3 linked regions of the Homo sapiens genome follow. The protein of the gene in region 1 interacts with the protein of each later gene in a pairwise test. Each region holds a gene or a part of one and is shown in the gene's direction. Other genes may lie near its edges.

Evidence for each region.
Region 2: the proteins of KRT39 (region 1) and IGFN1 interact in binary tests that used the Homo sapiens proteins (3 or more experiments, as listed by UniProt).
Region 3: the proteins of KRT39 (region 1) and CLCNKA interact in binary tests that used the Homo sapiens proteins (3 or more experiments, as listed by UniProt).

Annotation. Positions count from the first base shown.
Region 1 is NC_000017.11:40,957,887-40,964,396, reverse strand, and holds the end of KRT39 (keratin, type I cytoskeletal 39), read left to right. Parts: intron 1-613; coding exon 614-770; intron 771-1,833; coding exon 1,834-1,995; intron 1,996-2,109; coding exon 2,110-2,235; intron 2,236-3,895; coding exon 3,896-4,116; intron 4,117-5,537; coding exon 5,538-5,796; 3' UTR 5,797-5,980; downstream 5,981-6,510. UniProt on the Homo sapiens protein: May play a role in late hair differentiation.
Region 2 is NC_000001.11:201,221,649-201,229,126, forward strand, and holds the end of IGFN1 (immunoglobulin-like and fibronectin type III domain-containing protein 1), read left to right. Parts: coding exon 1-98; intron 99-1,090; coding exon 1,091-1,179; intron 1,180-3,030; coding exon 3,031-3,226; intron 3,227-4,175; coding exon 4,176-4,475; intron 4,476-5,233; coding exon 5,234-5,560; intron 5,561-6,737; coding exon 6,738-6,751; 3' UTR 6,752-7,304; downstream 7,305-7,478.
Region 3 is NC_000001.11:16,024,861-16,032,338, forward strand, and holds part of CLCNKA (chloride channel protein ClC-Ka), read left to right. Parts: coding exon 1-31; intron 32-1,247; coding exon 1,248-1,387; intron 1,388-1,675; coding exon 1,676-1,753; intron 1,754-1,836; coding exon 1,837-1,915; intron 1,916-2,449; coding exon 2,450-2,575; intron 2,576-2,960; coding exon 2,961-3,045; intron 3,046-3,157; coding exon 3,158-3,259; intron 3,260-3,900; coding exon 3,901-3,985; intron 3,986-4,265; coding exon 4,266-4,439; intron 4,440-4,870; coding exon 4,871-4,940; intron 4,941-5,104; coding exon 5,105-5,215; intron 5,216-5,600; coding exon 5,601-5,814; intron 5,815-6,849; coding exon 6,850-6,983; intron 6,984-7,342; coding exon 7,343-7,431; intron 7,432-7,478. UniProt on the Homo sapiens protein: Anion-selective channel permeable to small monovalent anions with ion selectivity for chloride > bromide > nitrate > iodide. Forms a homodimeric channel where each subunit has its own ion conduction pathway.

The DNA of each region.
Region 1 (6,510 bases):
ACCGAGATGCCCTCAACAAAATTGTCCCCATGTCTACTAACCCTCTTGCCCCAGATGATGTTGGCACAAGCCCAGAAAAGACTTTCAAATTCAATGAATGATTAAGATTAATAACTGCTCACATGTATACAGTACCTATAGTTTCTAACTTGTGAACCCATTTGATTACCTACACAATAGTTCAGTAAAATAGATAGGACTAATATATTGTTACTCTCTTTAAGGTGAGAAATCTGTGGCTTAGTGAGGCTAAGTTACTCACCCAAAGGTAAGCATAACTAGCACAAGTCAAAACCGAAACTTGGACACATGTTTTCTGAGCCCTAATCCAGTGCTTTCTTCACTTACATTGCATTGCCACTAGGGGCAGAGGAAGGACAATAAATTCCCATATCTCAAAGAACAGCAATGTAGATCCCCCTAGCAAACTAATTTGGGAATAATAATTAAGTTATGATCTATATCAAATGGTTTCACCTCCAAAGAGAATAAAACTTCTAATAGAAATACACTAAGTGAGGTGCCCAGAGCAAAATGCAGATGAGAGTTCTGCTTGGCTTGGTTTGCATCATCTCCTTTCAGATGTCTCTCTTTTCCCATCTGGTTTTTAAAGATACGAAGCTGAGGTGTCTCTACGCCAGCTGGTAGAGTCAGATGCCAATGGCCTCAAGCAGATCCTGAATGTGCTGACCCTGGGCAAGGCCGACCTAGAGGCACAAGTCCAGTCTCTGAAAGAGGAGCTCCTTTGCCTCAAGAACAACCACAAAGAGGTGAGACAAAGACCAATAGAGTAATCACAAGCTAAGTCCCTAAAAGTAGCATCAGTTCCTTTGAGTTGCACCTGACAAAGGGTGTGCCCGCTTGTATTAGTTCGTTCTCACACTGCTATAAAGAAATAACTGAGAGTAGGTAATTTATAAAGGACAGAAGTGTAACTGAGTCACAGTTCCACATGGCTGGGGAGGCCTCAGGAAACTTACAATCATGGCTTAAGGGGAAGCAGGCACATCTCACTTGGCAGCAGGAGACAGAGAGAGACCAAAGGGGGAAGAGCCCTTTATAAAACTATCAGATCTTGTGAGAACTCACTCACTATCCTAAGAACAGCATGGGGGACACCACCCCCATGATCCAATCTCCTCCCACTAGGTCCCTCCCTTGACACATGGGAATTATGGGAATTACAATTCGAGATGAGATTTGGGTGGGGACACAGAGCCAAACCACTGCTACGTACTACTCTGGTTTAGCCCTGAAAATACCTACTGCTACTAGCACTGGTTCAAGGTAGTATTTCAAATCCACTGGCTCCAACACAATATCTGGAGCCATAAGGGGAAGAAAGGCCTCCAACATCCCCTCCAGCTTTTCTACAAGAAGGAACCCAATTTTTCTGTCCTTACAGTCTTCCCATGTTTGTAGGCATCCCTATACAGGCTTCTGCCACCTCCCATTGGTACAAGTCAATATTGGTGCAAGTCAATATTGGCACAATCCCGTATTTGCACCATAGAGACTATAATCTCTCATGATCAATTCCACCTTTATCCTGTTTCACCCATTATCCAGCCCTGGAAATGATCTAAATTTTTTGGAACTCTGGTCTTGCTACTCATTTTTTTTTAATTTTGCACACATTTAAACACACAGTCCTACCTGAAAGAGTCTTAAATCATTTTATAGCATCTCAATAACACCTGTAAATCATGTATTCCTTTGTTGTGGGCTATATTTTAGACACAATTAAGCTAAATCGTAGCAGTTAGAGTGAAACAAGAACACAAAGGGGTTATCTGTTCACCAAGTGACTTCACAGTCTTTTTCTTTCCTTAGGAAATCAATTCTTTACAGTGTCAGCTTGGGGAGAGACTTGACATTGAAGTGACTGCTGCCCCTTCTGCTGACCTAAACCAGGTTCTACAAGAAATGAGATGTCAATATGAGCCCATCATGGAGACAAACCGCAAAGATGTGGAACAGTGGTTCAACACGCAGGTGGGGGATATAGAAAAGTCAAAAACAATAAGCTGATGCTGCATTTCTAGGGCCCTTTAATCAAAGTCATGTTTTCCTCCCATAATATTCTCAGTCTCTGGCTGTGTGTTTCAGATAGAGGAGCTGAATCAACAAGTGGTGACCAGCTCTCAACAGCAGCAATGCTGCCAAAAGGAGATCATAGAACTGAGACGCAGTGTGAACACTCTGGAGGTTGAACTGCAGGCCCAGCATCGAATGGTACTGAGCAAGCTGACCAAGCCTAGCTCAGCAAAGATGGAAACAGTCCCTTACACCTGTGTGCTGCAGTATTTCCCAAACTGTGTCTTTCAGAACAATAGTTCCTCATTTGTTAAAGCGTCTATGGCTGAAAAAGAGCTTTGTGGCCAAATAAGTCTACGAAACGCTGCACTAAACCAAGGTTAAACAGGGTGCCTTCCTGTGAGCCATTAATAAGCTAATATACACCATGAATCTCCAGGAAGGGGGTATATGGTATTCAGCATTCCAAAACTTATTTGACTGTGGATCCCCCCACTTTTTTTAGAACATCTCATGGTATTAATGATTCATGAAGTACACTTTGGGAAACACTGGGAGAGCATTTTATTATATGCAAAGCATTTTTACAAGCTATCACATGAGATTTATAAAGCAATCCTAAGAGGGGGGGTGGCATAATTATTAACGAATGTTACAGATGAGGCTCCAAGAGCTAAAGTGATTTTCCCAAGCAAATCCAAGGTAAGTTTCAGCCCACCTATTTTATAGAGACACTGAGATCCTGAGACATTAAGAAACTCATCCAAAGTCACAAAAGAAATAAGAGTCTGAGCCAGAGTTTAGATTCCAAAGCCAGTATCATTCTGTCTCATGATAATGCCTCTCTGAAGTAGAGAATTGCTTACATGCTCTGATGTGAAGGCTTTTGGGAAGACCTTGCCCCACACTGGTTTTGTCACCAGCTAGTCATGTGACCTTGGACAACATATTGAACCACTTGAACCTCAGTTTTCTCATCTATAAAAATTGGGATAATCATGCAAATAATAGGCTATTAAAACCTAAAATCCCATCATTATCCATAGACTTACAGAATGATAGAGCAGGAATGAAATTTACTCATCAGTTTCAACTTTCATATTTTACATATAAAGGAATTGATCTGGTGGATAAATTGTATATGGTAAAACATTGCTTCCTTCCTTTTTTAAGACACGAACACTCACTGAATGAAGTGCCATGGTAATGCTTTTTTTTTTTTTTCTTTTTGAGATGGAGTCTCACTCTGTCGCCCAGACTGGACAGCAGTGGCACGATCTCGGGTCACTGCAACCTCCACCTCCCGGGTTCAAGCAATTCTCTGCCTTAGCCTCCCAAGTAGCTGGGATTACAGGTGCCCACCAGAACACCCAGCTAATTTTTTGTATTTTTAGTAGAGACGGGGTTTCACCATCTTGGCCAGGCTGGTCTTGAACTCCTGACCTTGTGATCCACCCACCTGGGCCTCCCAAAGTGCTGGGATTATAGGCGTGAGCCACTGCGCCCAGCCAGTAATGCATTTTTAATGCCTGGGTGTGCATTAAGTTATTATTTTTTCTCTCCTAAGTAGGAAAGTGTGGTGCGAGACTATTGGTTGGTCAAGAAAGAGAAAGTGAAACAAATACTTACAGAGAAGCAAAAAGAGAAAGAGAGAAAGAGGGAAGAGATAAAGGAAAGCAGATTTTAGCATAGTTGATCATTTGGGTTTTGGATTTATTTGATTAGGAAACAATAAATAAAGTGCTTGGAGATCTATCAGTAGTGTCACAAAGAAACCATTTTTTTTAAATGATACAGGTCACAGGTGACCTGGGCTTAAAGGAGTCATTATAAATCCTACTATCCTTCTCCATGGTAGAGAGATTCCCAAGAGTGCATCCTAACGGAGACAGAGGCTCGCTACACGGCCTTGCTGACCCAGATCCAGAGTCTGATTGATAACCTGGAAGCTCAGCTGGCAGAGATCCGGTGTGCCCTGGAAAGACAGAACCAAGAATACGAGATCCTGCTGGACGTCAAGTCCCGGCTGGAATGTGAGATTACCACATACCGCAGCCTTCTGGAGAGCTCGGATGGCAAGTATGTAAAATAACAGCAACTTCTATGACAAAAAAGTGTAAATGAACGCAGATATATGTACTGCCACTGGCAACAGGGGTCAAGTGCTTTGTTTGACCTTCTTGCCAGTGATGGGGAGCTTGGACAGAGGCATCCACACACCCTCTCAAGCTGTGCCATGAGGAAGACTTGCAATTGTAACCTTATCCAAATTTGAGGCATTGGCTGACCTGAGCTGTTCTGAAGAGCCCATGGGCCAGGTTAATTTCTTATAGGTTGCTTACCTTCTTAGAGTTTTAAAAATTACTAGAGAAAAAATTATTTCCCCATAGATGAATATTCCTGGTGACCATTACAGATGTTTCCCCACTGAGATGAACGTCTGATTTTCATGAGCTTGTACAAAACAACCCAGGCTCCTTTGGAGGAACATTCTGCTCAGGCTGAAACCCCTAACCCTATCTAGCCACTAGTCCTTGAGGCCAACAGAAGCATGTACACATGTATGTTTTAGCATCTTTTTTAAAAAATAAAAGTTATAATTTTTGTAAGCAATAAGAAGCTAACCAACCCATAAGTAAACATATATGGAGGATGAGTTCTTTGAAGCAACTCAGTCCAAACTAAAACCCCAGAGACTTAGTTACAATTGCAAAGGAGACCTACTTCCCGAAAATAATCAGTGAACTCTTCACAGCATTCTTTTAATTGGCATGACCACATTATGTGAGCACAATGGTCATCAATGCTGTCACCTTTAGGAGCTGTGATCATATACCAAAATACCTCGAATCATCAAAGAAAGATTATGTTTATAAAAAGAGTGTTTACTATGAACTGCTTTTTACTTCAGTTCTCTAAAAACTATGCATAGACAGCCAGAAGGCACTTTGAAGCTTCCTGATGACACAGTGAGGACTCTTTCATAGCTGGGGTTCAGGCCACCACTATTAGTATGACTAACTCCTCAATGAGAAAAATATCTGGTTAATTTCCATTCCTCGGATAATAATGCCCTCAACTTGTTCCTTATCACTGTTGATCCTGTGGGTTTAGTTTCCATTATATCCATTCTGCAGATGAAAAACTAAAGGTTGAGTGCGTTAAATGACTTAGCTGAGGTCACCAGCTGGTAAAGGACAGAGCTGGTCTCTGCCTCAGTCTTTTGACTGCTAGTGCAGTATTCTTTCCACAATGTGATGGTATTGACTAATGGAAACTTACATAATCGAATACTTCTAAACCTAGGATGCTGATTTCCAATGGATTTAATCTGATTCTTTTTCTTCCAGTAACTACAGTACAAAATAAATGAATAAGCATTTAGAAGTATGTACTTGTCTTGAGCAACACGTGTTAAAAAAATTAGCCACAATCATTTTTCTCCATGACCATCATCGCCTTCCCTCAATCACAGCTAAAATTGTGTTTTTTTTCCTTAGGCGTCCCTGTTACCCACGTGCCACCAAATGTGAGCCTTCCCCTTGGACATCTTGTAAGTCCGGAGCCATAGAAAGCACGGCCCCAGCTTGCACATCCTCATCCCCCTGCAGCTTAAAGGAGCACTGCAGTGCCTGCGGACCCCTGTCCCGGATACTGGTTAAAATTTGCACCATCACCAAGGAGATTAAGGATGGGAAGGTCATTTCTTCTTACGAGCATGTGCAGCCTTGTTTCATCATCAGACCTGCCAAAGTCTAACATCCCAAGGTGATGAAAATGACCCACATTTATGAAACAGAGGCCAATACATGCTCCTGCCAGAGAGGTTTAAGAAAACTCCCCAGTCCCTTAAGGTACTTAGTTTCTTACTACTACAGCGGGTCCCCATTGCTAGGTAGAATATCTTTTATTCTGCTCCTTCCCTAACTCACCACTGCTAACATGATAATAAATTACATTTCTCTGGAAGGATGTTTTGCATTTATCTGAGGGATGGGAACTGATTTGTAAGCACCCAGGAAGATGGCCTACATTGCTTGACTACCCAGGTGATTGATGGGCAGGTCTCTCTCTTGTTTACTCAGGCCTTGTTTACCGACATTCCTCCTTAGAGCCAGTCAGACAAGTTTAGGGTTGTTTTTGGCCACCGGCACCTGAAGGTGAAAAGCTACAACCTTCCCTTCTAAATGTCTTTGGATACAGAAAGAAACATATATGGGAACAGTATAAATAGGGGAAAAGATCTTTAATATTTAATTCACTTGTGTAGATAGTCACGAGTATGGATCCTATTAAACTCTGCTGTCTTAATTATGATTTATCTATACTAACATACTTTACCTTTCCAAAGATATTTTTTTAAATGTCCATGGTCTCCAAAACTTTGTGACCTATTAGGCTCTCCAAATATTTTATTTGAGAATCAGATAAGTTGTGGGGAGTGAATCTAGAACACTTTGAAGAAATAGCATG
Region 2 (7,478 bases), on another chromosome or scaffold:
TGGAGAGGGCTACTTCGTGCGGGTGACAGCAGTTAATGAAGGAGGCCAGAGCCAGCCCAGTGCCCTGGACACATTAGTGCAAGCCATGCCTGTTACTGGTGAGTGCTGCCTCCTTCCCCGACCCCTGAGCCCTGCAGGCCTCTCCTAAGAGGGGGCCCCTGAGTAGCCGCAATGCACTTACTAAGCCAGGATCCCCACCCTCAGTTTCAGGAAGTAACATTTATTGAGCACCTACTAGGTGCTAGGTACTGGGCTAGGCAGTCCCTTCTTAGAAATGTTTTCTCATTACGACTCATAACTATACTACAATATTAATGTTTTTATTCCGAAGTTACAGAGAAGGAAACTGAGGTTCAAGGTACTTTGCCCTAGTTGTCACTAATGGTATGTGGTACAGCCAGGATTTAAACCTGGAGACTCCAAAGTTGATGTTCTGTAGGAGAGAGAGTGGCTGCTTCCCGGGCATGGCCTTCGAAGGCCTAAGGGCCGCTCAGCTCCCATGGTTCACGTTCAGAATGGGACATGCCCAGCTCCCCGTTATTATTGAAAAGAGGATTGTCTTTCCCTTTGGGCTTTAACCACCACAAGCACCTGATCTGCCTTTGACCCAAGCTGACACTGGGCCACCCCAGCTGACCCTAGTCATCACTATGGCAGTAGGGAGTCACAAACACAGCACACGGAGTCCAAAGTCCCAGAATCTTGTCCTGGCTCTCTCCCGAACAAGGTGTGACCTCAGGCAAGTCATTTCCTGTCTTAGATTGGTGTTTATCTCATCTGCAAAACATAAGCGCTCTGCCACATGTCTGCATCTTCCTCTGTTCCAGCCTAGTCCACCCCTCTCCCTGCAGGGTTCCTTTCTCAGCTCCTGTCCCTCCCCCGCTAGCATCTCCCCATCAGCCCCTGGGGTCTCCCCTGAAGATTCTGCTCCCAGCTGTACTCCAGTCCTTTAGAGGCCCCAGTATGTTGGGATCTCAGCATCAATCCGACTGGCCCAGTCTTCCCCTCCAGCCCTACCTTGCTGGGGACCTGGGGCTGGGGTCCAACTGTGAGGGAGGAGGGAGGTAACCAGTCCTCTTGTGCGTTTCAGTCTGTCCCAAGTTCCTCGTGGACTCCAGCACCAAGGACTTGCTGACAGTCAAGGTCGGGGACACAGTTCGTGTGCCCGTCTCCTTTGAAGTGAGTGTACCTGCAGGGGTGTGGGGAGGGAAGCCCAGAGAGGCCAAGGGGGCCAGACTCAGCCCTGTGGCTCTCTTTTCTTCCCTGTTCCTTTTTGGCCCCTAGTCAGTGCTTGTGGAAATCACTGACTGGGCTTGTGGAAATCAGGTGAGAGACATGAGGCAGGAAGGATTCAGGTCCTCCTTGAAGGTACTGCCCTCACTTGGCGGCTGGGTGGCCATTCTGCTCCAGGCCTGCAAATCCCTCTAGTGGTAGCTTCAGCTACTGCACCTCCAAACTAAGGCTCTTCGGTTCTCCACCTCTCCTAGTCTGGGAATTCAGGGAGCCGGTCGTGCAGATGATCCCCTTTGACTTCACAATGTATTTTTGTGCAAGCACATGACCTATATTTGACTCAGGGTGATCCTTAACCAACACCAACACCACCTGACTTTACAACAGTAGGGTGGTGGCTAAAAGTACAAACTGCCTGGGTTCAAATTTTGATGTCATCACTCACAGCCGTTTGACTTTGGACAAATATTATTTATTTATTTATTTATTTATTTATTTATTTATTTTGAGATGGAGTCTCACTCTGTCACCCAGGCTGGAGTGCAGTGGCACGATCTCGGCTTACTGCAACCTCCACCTCCCGGGTTCTAGCGATTCTCCTGCTTTAGCCTCCCAAGTAGCTGGGATTACAGGCGCATGCCATCACGCCCGGCTAATTTTTGTATTTTTAGTAGAGATGGGGTTTCGCCGTGTTGGCCAGGCTGGCCTCTCAAACTCCTGACCTCACGTAGTCTGCCCACCTCGGCCTCCCAAAGTGCTGGGATTACAAGTGTGAGCCACTGTGCCCAGCCAGAACAAATATCTTAACATCTCTGTGTTTCACCTTCCTCATCTGTCAAAAGGGGATAATAATAGTAACCTACCTCAAAGGTCTGAGGGTTCAAGGAATTAATATATTGAAAGTGTATATGTAGGGCCTGGCATATGACAGCACCCAATATGTTTTAATATTATTATTGTTTAAAATCATCATCATCTGTGTAGGAATTCAAACCAGTCTATCTTACTCTAAATGACTTGTTCTTAACCACAATAATGACAATGATAATGATGGCAAAAATATTTAATGCACATTGAGTAGTTACCATGTCCTAGGCCTTGTTCTCTCTGCTTTCCGTGTATTTATTATTAACGCCTTAAATTCTCAGAACAATCCTGTGAGGTCAGTTAGTGACTATCAGCATCTTCGTTTGACTCTGGTGCCCACCGTGCCCTGTACTGAGGGCCCCGTAGGGAGTTGACGGCATGGTCACCAAGCAGCTGGGCTGGCCTTCCCACCCTGCTCAGGGTCACCACAGTTCAAGGCCAGGACACCGCAATCTTCCTCCTAGACTATTGCCAAATTATCTCCTACATGGTCTTGGCTGCCAGGGTGGTTAACACTCCCCTCCCCACACATCCCTTCTCATTCCCATCCCACCCCCTGCCATGTGAATCCAGAACTCATTATGCTTTCCTGCTCAGAATCTGACAACAGCGGCTCCTGGCTGAGAGGATAATGTCCAGATGTCTGTAGAGGTGTGACGTGGAGGGCACTTTGCATTTTTGCCGAACCTCTTCGTCCAACTTCCTTTCTTGTTCTACCGCCCCCCTACCATACCCGCCTGCCAACCTCACACTTTATCACCACCCCTCTTTCCCACCTGTGTTTTCTTGTCGACGTTGTGTTTTCTGGTCGACTTTCTCCTTGTAGAAGACTCTTCTCACCGCTTCTACCTTTGGCCTAGCTTAAATGCCATCACCTCCATGAAACTGCCAGCTTCCCCTTCTCAACTTTTCCTTCCTCTCCTTTCTCAGGCCATGCCCATGCCTGAGGTGACCTGGCTGAAGGATGGCTTGCCCTTGCCCAAAAGAAGTGTGACTGTCACTAAGGATGGCCTCACCCAGCTTCTGATCCCTGTGGCTGGACTCTCAGACAGTGGTCTCTACACTGTGGTGCTGAGGACCCTGCAGGGGAAGGAGGTTGCCCACAGCTTCCGTATCAGGGTGGCAGGTGAGGCAGGCCTTGCTCTGGGCTCTGGACGCTGGCTCGGCCACTCACCAAGGCAAAGAGGTGTCCACTGGTCTGATCATAGGTCTCAGCCACTCTACCAGGGCTGGGTATGCAAAGTGACCATTCTCCACCTTTCCTCCATGCTTGATGATAGAAAGTAGAAAGGACCCCAGAAGATCCCCTGGGGACTTCCATTGTCCTTCTGCCTCAGGAGCCTAGAGACAGTCATGTCATGTCTCCTCTCCGACCTCAGTTATCCTTCCCGTTGAGTCAGTGAGCAGAGGCGGTTACCACTGTTACATCACTCCAAAGACCCAGGGGACAAAATTGTCTGCAGCCGTTGCACAGGATAAAGGCTTTCCTCCCCAGCTGTGGCTCCACACAGCCCCTGCCCTGGAGGAGCTTCTGGATATCCAGAAATGATCAAATAGACTAACAGTGGGGGCTCTGTAATGCAGCTTCATGAGAGCCCTGCCTCTGTCCAAAAATGCATGCCTTGTCCTGTGTCATTTTACTTAAAAACTGAAGTGAATTCAGTGAAACCCCATCTCTGCGAAAAATACAAAAAATTAGCCGAGCGTGGTGGTGGCCGCCTGTAGTCCCAGCTACTTGGGAGGCTGAGGCAGGAGAATGGCGTGAACCCGGGAGTTGGAGCTTGCAGTGAGCCGAGATCGTGCCACTGCACTCCAGCCTGGGTGACAGAGCCAGACTCCGTCTCAAAAAACAAACAAACAAACACACTGAAGTGAATTAAAATTACTCTTTTGGGGAGATTTTCTACCCTCTAGAGATAACTGTGGACCGCTGGCCAAGCTTACTCTGGGTCCAGCTACTTGTGTGGCAAGACTGCGTTCCCCAGGACCCTCAGAAGTCCTGGGACCTGGAGGGGGCTGGTAGCAGCCCTGCTGGGTCCCCTCCACGTGACCTCCCTCTGCCGTCTCTCCTGAAGCATGCCCGCAGGCCCCTGGGCCCATCCACCTGCAGGAGAACGTGCCTGGGACGGTGACGGCCGAGTGGGAACCCTCTCCTGACGAGGCCCAGGATGTCCCGCTGCACTACGCGGTGTTCACACGCTCCTCAGCGCACGGTCCCTGGCACGAGGCAGCCGACCGCATCCACACCAACCGCTTCACCCTCCTGGGCATCCTCCCCGGCCACGAATACCACTTCAGGGTGGTGGCCAAGAATGAGCTGGGGGCCAGCAAACCCTCGGACACCAGCCAGCCCTGGTGCATCCCCCGGCAGCGCGGTAAGCAGCCCCTGAGAGGGAGGAGCAGGCAGGGTGGGGGTTGCGCTCTGCAATGCAGTGGGATGCACCCAAGCATGGCAAGCGCGCAGGATAGGGACTGTGGCAGGGATGGCCTGGAGCATGCCAAATAACAGCCAGCAGCCCCGAGCTGCTGCTCCTCCCGCTCCTGCCTCACACCCACCTGTTCTGGCATCCTCTGCACCCCGACCTCCGTGGGAAGAATGAGATTGGTGTGGGTGTTTTGGTGTCTGAGGTGCCTTTGGGAGGATTTTCAAAAGCAGCCACAGACAATAAGGCAAATAGAGGTTAATGTTTCTCTGAAAACAAAGTGTATATTTTACCGCAAAGTAGATGTGGACCTTAAGATCAGTCACAGAAAAGCAGGCTATAAAATCAAATCAAGGTTTCATTTTCATAAAATACAAAAATTTCAGGAAAGCTCTACACCAGAATGTCAGCTATAGTCATCTATAGGTAGTGAGATTATGATTTGGTTTTTATTCTTTCTCCTTTGATTCTCTGTGTATTCTAATTGTCCACAGTGAATGTGTATTAGCTACAAAAAAAAATCCATAAAGAATTTTAGGAAAAGGATAGAATGAGGCAAGCCTTGGGGTCCAAATTTGCAGGCAAGATGTGGCAGGAAATCCCAGATAAGGCCTACATGGTAGCTTCATGAACTCTTTACCCAGACCCGGGTCTCAGCCAGGCCTTCCTCGCTTTCTCACCCTCTTCTCTCACCCCGGCTTTCACCACAGACAGGTTCACAGTGAAGGCTCCGTGCTACCGGGAGCCCGACCTGAGCCAGAAGCCCCGGTTCCTGGTGGGCCTGCGGTCCCACCTGCTGCCCCAGGGCTGCGAGTGCTGCATGAGCTGTGCCGTGCAGGGCTCGCCCCGGCCCCACGTCACCTGGTTCAAGAATGACCGCAGCCTGGAAGGAAACCCCGCGGTGTACAGCACTGACCTGCTGGGCGTGTGCTCCCTCACCATCCCCAGCGTATCCCCGAAGGACAGCGGGGAGTACAAGGCTGTGGCTGAGAACACGCTGGGCCAGGCAGTCAGCACTGCCACCCTCATTGTCATAGGTAATGGTGGCTGCCCTGGCAGTGGGGCAGGAAGGAGAGCCAGGAGAGCAACCACCTGCCTGTCAGGGAGGCTCCGGGGGGTGCCTAGAGGGATTCAGCCGGGAGTCAGGAGACCAGGACTCTCTGCCTGACTCTATGAACTTTCAGCTATTTAACCTACCAACACCGGCCCACATGTGGTCTTTATTTGCCCACTTTTTAAAAAATTTATTTTTATTTTTAGTTTTTTTTTTTTTGAGACGGAGTTTCGCTCTTGTTGCCCAGGTTGGAGTGCAATGGCATGATCTCGGCTCACTGCAGCCTCCACCTCCTGGATTCAAGAGATTCTCCTGCCTCAGCCTCCTGAATAGCTGGGATTACAGGCATCCGCCACCACACCTGGCGGATTTTTTTGTATTTTTAATAGAAGGGGGGTTTCATCATATTGGCCAGACTGGTCTCAAACTCCTGACCTCAGGTGATCCACCCGCCTCGGCCTCCCAAAGAGCTAGGATTACAGGTGTGAGCCACTGTGCCCGGCAGATTTGCCCACTTTTAAAATGAGGTATTTGAACTTGGTGAGCAACTCTTGATTGAAGGGCTGTGTACTGCTCACCTAAGCTTCCCAGTGGGGCCACGCTACACATTGCAGGCTGAGAGATGAACAGGCATCCGTATTGCTGTTTCTTAAGTATGTCAAGATATGAACACTTAGTGCCTAGAAAGCCATGCTGATTCTCTCATTGGTAGTCTCCTTTTCAGTAGCACAGATATATATGTTAATAAAGGTTTTTCCTTCGATAGTACTTAAAACACCTTATATTTTGAATAGCAATAAAAGGCAAGCCTCAATTGACCTTTGTGGAAAAACGGCCCCTTTGCACTGGAGCAGAGCATCTCTCCTCTCTGTAGCACCTGTGCTTAGGCATTTAGGAAGCCACTCTCGAAACACCCCAGCTTGTGTACACATGTAGTCCCGGAACGAAGATGGCATTGGGGGTGATTATGGTTCCCCGAGGGGCCAGCAAAGGGCTTTGCCCAAGCTTAGAGAGCACGTGGTGGCTCCAGATTTGAACCCACACCCCCTGATGGCAGAGCCTGTAGTCTAAGCCCCATTCTGAGTTTTCTTCACCACTGAACAGATGCAGGGTGGGGTGGCTGCCCCTCTGAACCAACTGGAATATCCTGTGTCTTGCAGAACCCAGCACCTAGCCTCACCTCACCCTGGGATGGTCCTGGACCCTTGAAGCTTCACTTCCGACACCTGCACTGGCCCGGGAAGCCAATCCCAAGGATGGAGGCTGTGCCCAGAGCCCCAGGAAAATGGGAGTGAGAAGATGCCTGGCGAGGTTTTGGCCAGGAGGACGTGAAGTCCTTGGGGAAGAAAAACAAGGGAGGAGGGCATTCCACCTCCTGGCTCCAAGCTAAGTCACTCAACAGAATGACAGCGAACCTCCTGGACCCTCACCATATGGGTTTCTTTCTTCTTCGCTTCAGGAGATCCAGAGGGCACCTGCCTGCAGGATGGGCCGGCTCCTTATTTTCCTGGGCTGAGCCGTTTGGAGGGAGGGTGGGCACAGCTGGGCCTGCTGTGACCACTGGGAGGGAAGAGGAGAGGAGGTCAGAGGACCTGGGTGAGGACTAGGGCATCAAGGTCGTGTGTGTGGGTGGGGGCAGCCTCCACCTCCTGGATTCAAGAGATTCCAGGGGTGCAGCAAGTGCTTTCTATGCGTTTCTTCATTAAAACATTAGGCTAATACAGGCAGATCATTGGCAAATTTACTTGGGGTGGGTGTGTTGGAGGAAAGATTTCCAAAGCGGAGCCTTTATTCCAGGCTTCAGTTGGGAGGATGGGTGGGTTCTGGATAGAGGAAGAACGGGCTCAGAACTGGACTCTTCTCCTGCAGCCCAGGCCTACATAGTTGATTGCAAGGGCGAG
Region 3 (7,478 bases), on another chromosome or scaffold:
TTCTCCCAGAGCATCACGCCCTCCTCTGGAGGTGAGTCCACGGTCGCCATGCCAGTCCCCAGTGCCAAAACCTTCTCAGATCCCAGGGGGCTTCTGATGGGGGGAATCGGGAAGCTGCAGCCTCATTTCTCAAGCCCAGAAGAGTTATGTGGCTTGCCTGAAGGCACACAGCAAGAAGGCCAGATCTTGACTCTTGGGTCACTGCTGGCCCTACTCGCTTTCCAAGGGCTCCTTGGAAGGAGATTGCCCTGTGGGGCCTGTGCTGGTGCCAGGAAGGGGCCCATGGAGGAGGTGCCGCTCCCTCAGGCCACTCAGCCCTTCCTCCAGCTCCAGGCCAGCAGAGGGGAGCTCCAGGCTCACTCAGTGGTGGCCTGAGGTTCTGTTCAGAGCTCCCCCATCCTGACACAGCCATCTGCCAGTCCCAGTGGGAGGAACGTGGACAACTCGCATTCCTCTCTGACTCTAGCATCCAAATCTGCAAAATGAGTTTATGCATCCTAACCTCTGAGGGTTCTGCGTGATCATAATAGGACTAGGTGCAGTGACTCAGTCTATAATCCCAGCACTTTGGGAGGTGGGTGGATCACTTGATCCCAGGTGTTCAAGAGCAGCTTGGACAACATGGTGAAACCCCATCTCTACAAAAAATAAAAAACAACCACCACAACAAAAAGTTAGCCAGGTGTGGTGGTGCCTGCCTGTAGTCCCAGCTACTTGGAAGGCTGAGGTGGGAGGATCACTTTTGAGCCTGAGGAAGTCGGGGTTATAATGAGCCGAGATCGAACCACTGCATTCCAGCCTGGACAATAGGGTGATACCCTGTCTCAAAGGAAAAAAAAAAATCATAATGTGAAAACACCGTGCGGGTAGAGTTATGAGAGTTTTTTTTGTTTGTTTGTTCGTTTGTTTTTGAGATGGAGTTTCACTCTTGTTGCCCAAGGTGGAGTGCAATGGCACAATCTTGGCTCACTGCAACCTCTGCCTCCCAGGTTCAAGCAATTCTCCTGCCTCAGCCTCCCAAGTAGCTGGGACTGCAGGCACCCGCCACCATGCCCGGCTAATTTTTTGTATCTTTAGTAGAGATGGGGTTTCACCATGTTGGCAAGGCTGGTCTCGAACTCCTGACCTCGCGATCCGCCTGCCTCGGCCTCCCAAAGTGCTGGGATTACAGGCGTGAGCCACTGCGCCTGGCAGAGAGTTTTAATCTAGAGATTGTCCCCTGCTTGTTCCTGTCCTGTCTGGCTAAGGTTCTGGAATCCCGGAGCTGAAGACCATGTTGGCGGGTGTGATCTTGGAGGACTACCTGGATATCAAGAACTTTGGGGCCAAGGTGGTGGGCCTCTCCTGCACCCTGGCCACCGGCAGCACCCTGTTCCTGGGCAAAGTGGTATGGTCAGGTGTGAGGGCACCCCAGCCACCCCGCCCACCCTACCCTGCCCCAGCTCTCCCCCATACCCCACCAAAGCTGGGTCAGAGCAGACTCAGGCCAGTGCCTGCCTTCAGGGAGCTCAGTCTTAGGGGAAGAGCCAGGCCAGGTCCCCAGTGTGACAAAAGCTACCTGAGGACAGCCCTGGGGGTTGGGGAGATGGAGGAGGGGGTGTGGTGGGGAAGCCGTGCTGCCTCGGGGTGAGACTGTCTCTGCTGCCCTCACCTGGGCCCACCCTTCCCTCTGCAGGGCCCTTTCGTGCACCTGTCTGTAATGATCGCTGCCTACCTGGGCCGTGTGCGCACCACGACCATCGGGGAGCCTGAGGTTAGGGACTCGGGGGCTTCCTTGGAGAAATGGGAGTGGGGAGGGAGGGGGCTGACTCTGAGCCCTGGACTCGGATCCCCCAGAACAAGAGCAAGCAAAACGAAATGCTGGTGGCAGCGGCGGCAGTGGGCGTGGCCACAGTCTTTGCAGCTCCCTTCAGCGGTGAGACCCCCCTCATGCCCCGCCCCCTGGGTCCCTCAAGCTCCTCCCCTCACACCCTGGGCTCCCTCGGCCCAGCTGAGAGCCTGGAGGAGGGGATGGGGCTCATTCTTGTTCTCACTTCAGCCCCGCTTTGGGTATAGCCACCCCCCGGGGGCGGCGGGGCGGGGCGGGTGGTTGGGGGCGTGGTTGGGCGGTGCTGAGAGGCTTCAGGATAACATTACACAGACTTGGGTTTGAAATCCACTGGCCCCTTGGCCTCTCTGAGCGCAGCTTCCTCCTCTGTAAAATGGGGATCAAACCGTTCCCACCCGATAGGGAGAGGGCGCACACCTGCATTCCAGGCTGGATGGATCCCTGGGCAGCGGGGTCCTCCCCGCCCAGGGCGCAAGCCCTGCCCTCCCCTTCTGTCTGTCCCTGTCCGGGCTGTAGGACAGCAGGACAGATGGCTCAGGGAGGAGGCGAGATGGGGGAGGGGGCCCTACAGCCACAGGTGGGTGGGGGTGGGGGCCCACCTGACATCAGTGTCGCCCCCAGGCGTCCTGTTCAGCATCGAGGTCATGTCTTCCCACTTCTCTGTCCGGGATTACTGGAGGGGCTTCTTTGCGGCCACCTGCGGGGCCTTCATATTCCGGCTCCTGGCAGTCTTCAACAGCGAGCAGGGTGAGCCCCCTGGGCTGCCTGACCCTGGCCCTGCCTGGGGGCCGGGGCGAGGGAGACCTCCCTTCTCCTCTGTGTACATCTCTTGCTCTTCCCTTCCCTCTCTCTCCCTCTTTTCCCTCCTCCGTGTTCCCACCTCCTTCAGGGAGGATGGAAGGGGCTGACCTGTGTTGAGCCCCTGACCTGTGTTGAGGGGCAAGGGGCCCTGAGGGTAGAAGGGATGAGGCTGGGCAGGGAGGCAAGAGCCTGGTTGTGGGGGCCTGGAATGCCAGGACACAGATTCCGAGTCAGGACCTGGCACCCCCTCCACCCTGGGCTGTTAGTCTGGGACTTGAGTTTGGGTCGGGTGGGAGCGCCATCTTGGCTCCCCACTGCCCTCCTTCCCCAGAGACCATCACCTCCCTCTACAAGACCAGTTTCCGGGTGGACGTTCCCTTCGACCTGCCTGAGATCTTCTTTTTTGTGGCGCTGGGGTGAGTGGGTGCCTTGGGCCCCTGAGAGTCCAAAAGGCATTCCCCCCAAGGCCTGGACTGCGGCCCCTGGTACTGGGGTCAGGCTCTGGTCTTACCTCCCTTCACCCCGCAGTGGCATCTGCGGCGTCCTGAGCTGTGCTTACCTCTTCTGTCAGCGAACCTTCCTCAGCTTCATCAAGACCAATCGGTACAGCTCCAAACTGCTGGCTACTAGGTAGGCTCTGGGCTAGGGGCTGGGGACATCTCAGTGAGTCCCTTGTGGACTCCAGACCTTATGTAGAAAGCCCCACCCCCATCCTCCCACTGAGCCCCTAAATCCCTCCCTAGCCCGTGGAGCATCTAACAACCCTCTCCAAGTCCCCACAGTCACTGTCCCCCCTTCCTTACTGGGCTACGAACCCCACATTGAACCCCCATCCCTCCTTCATTCTACAATCTCTCAGCGAAACCCCACCCCCTCACTGAGCCTCAAACCCTGTGCCCCTTCAAACCTTGTGTGGCCCCTGGCGTTGGCCTTGGCATTGGCCAGCCCTCCTGCCCCGGAGATGCACATGGCCCGCCCCGGCCCGGCCCACTGTCTCCTCCCTCCTAGCCTGCCTCTGCCCCAATTCTCCTCTCAATCTCCTGCGTGATTCCTCTGCCCTCAGTCATACCCAGTTGAGGGGCTCACCCCACGGGTTCTACCCGCTGGAGGGGGCCATGTTCCCTGCTCCCGCCCTTCCTCCTCACCAGTCCTTGCCTCGGTATCAGCCCCCAGGTGGGGAGCTCTGCTGCTGCCTGGACCAGGTCCTACTTCCCTCTCCTCGGGATGTAGGAAAGGGAGGGCCAGCCCTAGAGCTCACCCACCCCCCACAGCAAGCCTGTGTACTCCGCTCTGGCCACCTTGCTTCTCGCCTCCATCACCTACCCGCCTGGTGTGGGCCACTTCCTAGCTTCTCGGGTAAGGGGTCCTGAGCGGGGGTGGCAGGAGTGGGAACCCCCATTTGTTTTCCCCTTTGCATGTGTCTCACGTAATACCCTCAGCACCCCACCAGGGTGACACCTGGGCATCATTCTGCAGATAAGGAGACCATGGCTCTGGGAGGTCAGAGCCCTGCCCAAGGCCCCCCGCTGGGAAGTGGCAGGGGAGGATTCCAGGCGGGGTCAGGCGGTGCGGGGGAGGCTGGGGTCTGCCGCTGGGGGGGGCCCCTCATGTCCAGTTCCCACCTGCCCCGCCACAGCTGTCCATGAAGCAGCATCTGGACTCGCTGTTCGACAACCACTCCTGGGCGCTGATGACCCAGAACTCCAGCCCACCCTGGCCCGAGGAGCTCGACCCCCAGCACCTTTGGTGGGAATGGTACCACCCGCGGTTCACCATCTTTGGGACCCTTGCCTTCTTCCTGGTTATGAAGGTGGGCCCCCTGACCCCCAGGTGTGCACAGAGCCAGGACCAGCTCTGGTGGGGAGGGGCGGGGGTGCCTCCCTGCACCTGGTGGCATGGAGCCCAGGCCTCTCACCCACACTTCCTTCTGTGCCCCCTGCCCACTGCATGGTCCTGGATAAGTGGCTTCAGGTCTCTGGACCTCAGTCTTCCCATCTTTAAAATGGGGTGGTTACTGGGAAGGCAGAGAAGGAAGAAAGGAATGTACCTGGCACAGTGCCAGGCATACAGTGGGCATTTCTCAGGGTGAGGACCCTCCCCTAATGCCAGACTCTGGCAGTGGGTGCATGGCTGGCACCCTCTTTCTATCTAGGACACTCCCCTGTCCCCTGTCCTGTCTTCTCTTGTCCACACCTTGCCCAGCGGCCTCTAACCTCTGCCCTGGGCTCCCCCTTCCTGCAGTTCTGGATGCTGATTCTGGCCACCACCATCCCCATGCCTGCCGGGTACTTCATGCCCATCTTTATCCTTGGTGAGTCTGGGGTCCTGAGGTTCTGAGAGTTTTGGGGTTCTTGGGGCAGGGCCATGCATCCTGGTTCACCCTCTTCCCGGGTGGTACTAAGGATGGTCCTCAGGGATGGAGGGCTGTGGGGGCCGGGTCAGCCTGGCTCCCCCTCACCCTAAGTCTGTGGCCAGGAGCTGCCATCGGGCGCCTCTTGGGAGAGGCTCTTGCCGTCGCCTTCCCTGAGGGCATTGTGACTGGAGGGGTTACCAATCCCATCATGCCCGGGGGGTATGCTCTGGCAGGTGAGTGGGTCACGGCCCTGCTGGGTGGGCAATGTCGTGGGGCTGGGCTGGACCTGGAGAATTGGCTGGTGGTTCCCCAGGGCACGGAGCAGTCACTGAGTCCTCCAGTGAACCCCCTACCCCTCATGGGGGTCTGTCCCTCCTGAGCCCCACCATTCCCCGGGGCCCATCACTTCCTCGTGGCTCCTGTCCCCAGCCCTGCGGCCTCCCTTATCCCTCTCCTCTCACCAAGCCCAGGCCTTGGGGCACTTCCCACAGTGCCCAGGCTGTGGCCTCTTACAATTCCCACCCTAGCCCCCGGCAGCAGCCAGGCTAGTTATTCCCTCACATCAGGCTGGCCCCTGCCTCCTGGCCTGAGCCGACCTGTGTGGCTCTGCCCCGGCAGGGGCTGCAGCCTTCTCAGGGGCTGTGACCCACACCATCTCCACGGCGCTGCTGGCCTTTGAGCTGACCGGCCAGATAGTGCATGCACTGCCCGTGCTGATGGCGGTGCTGGCAGCCAACGCCATTGCACAGAGCTGCCAGCCCTCCTTCTATGATGGCACCATCATTGTCAAGAAGCTGCCATACCTGCCACGGATTCTGGGCCGCAACATCGGGTGAGTGGTGCCCACCTCAGGCTGACTGAAGGGGGTCACAGTGTTTGGGCTTGGCTGGGGGTGGAGGGCACCTCCAAAAAGAAACACCACCGCAGCTGACCTCCGACATGGGGGCTGGGAGGGGCTGACACACAGCTGTGCTCTCATCTCCACTCTCCCCAGTGCCCTGGGTGACCTTGGGCAAGTCCTTGGCCTTGAGGCCTCAGTGTCTGTCTAGGGGTCAGCTGGGCTTCACAGCAGGAGGATGAGTATTGCCCCGTGTACAGATTGAGGAAACCAGAGCTCAGAGAGGTGCCGTGTCTTGCTCCAGGTGACACAGAGAGTCAGCACCAGATCCGAGAGGTCTCCTCCCCTCTCCCCACTCCTGCTGTCCTTGCTGGGACTTTGGGAGCAGGAGGTGGAACGAGAATGGAAATGGGCTTTGAAGTCCTCACTCAACCAGATAGGACCAGAGCAGCTTCTGGCGCCAGAAAAGCAGACCAAAGAGGCTCTGAGAGTCCGAATCGGAGGCCCCGCTCCAAACACAAACAAGCTGCTGCCTTGCTCTGAACCTGTTTCCCCATCGGGAAAATGGGGCTGTTTATACCAGTGATTTTCAACCTTCCAAGTTTTTCCTTGGGGGTGACATACACTTTTATAATCAAATGGAATTATCCAGGGAAGGCTGCTGGGTCTGTACTCCAATCTCATTATTCATTAATGGATGGCCAGTCACTGACCACCTGGCAGATACTGGTTTTCCGTCATCTCACACTCAGCTCTGTCCAAGGTGGGACAAGACCCAAGTGAAGCTGGTCTGGGGGACATGGGGGACCAGGGGGTTGGGGATTTGGAACTGGGCCATCAGTAATGTGGTCCCCAGGTTTCCTCCCACTGTGGGTTCTAGGAGTCCCTCATTCCAGGAACCTCTCCAGCCCTGCTCACACTCCAGAGCCGTGGGTCCCTGGTTCAAGCAAAGCTCCCCTCAGATCCCCTTGCTGGCCTGGGTCTGACATCCCCGACTCCGGGACCTGATGGGAGCCCCTCTGCCTGCAGCTCCCACCATGTGAGGGTGGAGCACTTCATGAACCACAGCATCACCACACTGGCCAAGGACACGCCGCTGGAGGAGGTGGTCAAGGTTGTGACCTCCACAGACGTGACCGAGTATCCCCTGGTGGAGAGCACAGGTGCCCAGCTGGAAGGGAGGAGGAAGTCGGGGGTAGGGGATGCCCTCTGCCTCCTTCTTGAACCTGTCAGGCAGACAGGATCTGCATCCAGGCTCTGTGACTTAGCAACCAACCGTGTGACCTTGAGCAAGTCACTTCACCTGAGCCTCAGTTTCCTCATCAGCAAAATGGAAATCATGGCTACCCTCCCTTGGGGTGGTTGACATGTCTAAAGAGAGTCGGCTGGGTGCTTGTAAGGCAGTCCCTGGGCAGCTGCTGGGGTAGGAGCATGGGGACACCACCAAGGTCTTCCGGAAGCTTGGCCCTCAGGCCTGTTTCTTCATAATGCACCTCCCTCCCTCTCCCTCTCTACTTGCCAGAGTCCCAGATCCTGGTAGGCATCGTGCAGAGGGCCCAGCTGGTGCAGGCCCTCCAGGCTGAGCCTCCTTCCAGGGCTCCAGGACACCAGGTGGTTACTCCTGAGGGGCGTGGGGATGGGGCGGGGGTGGGTCAGCA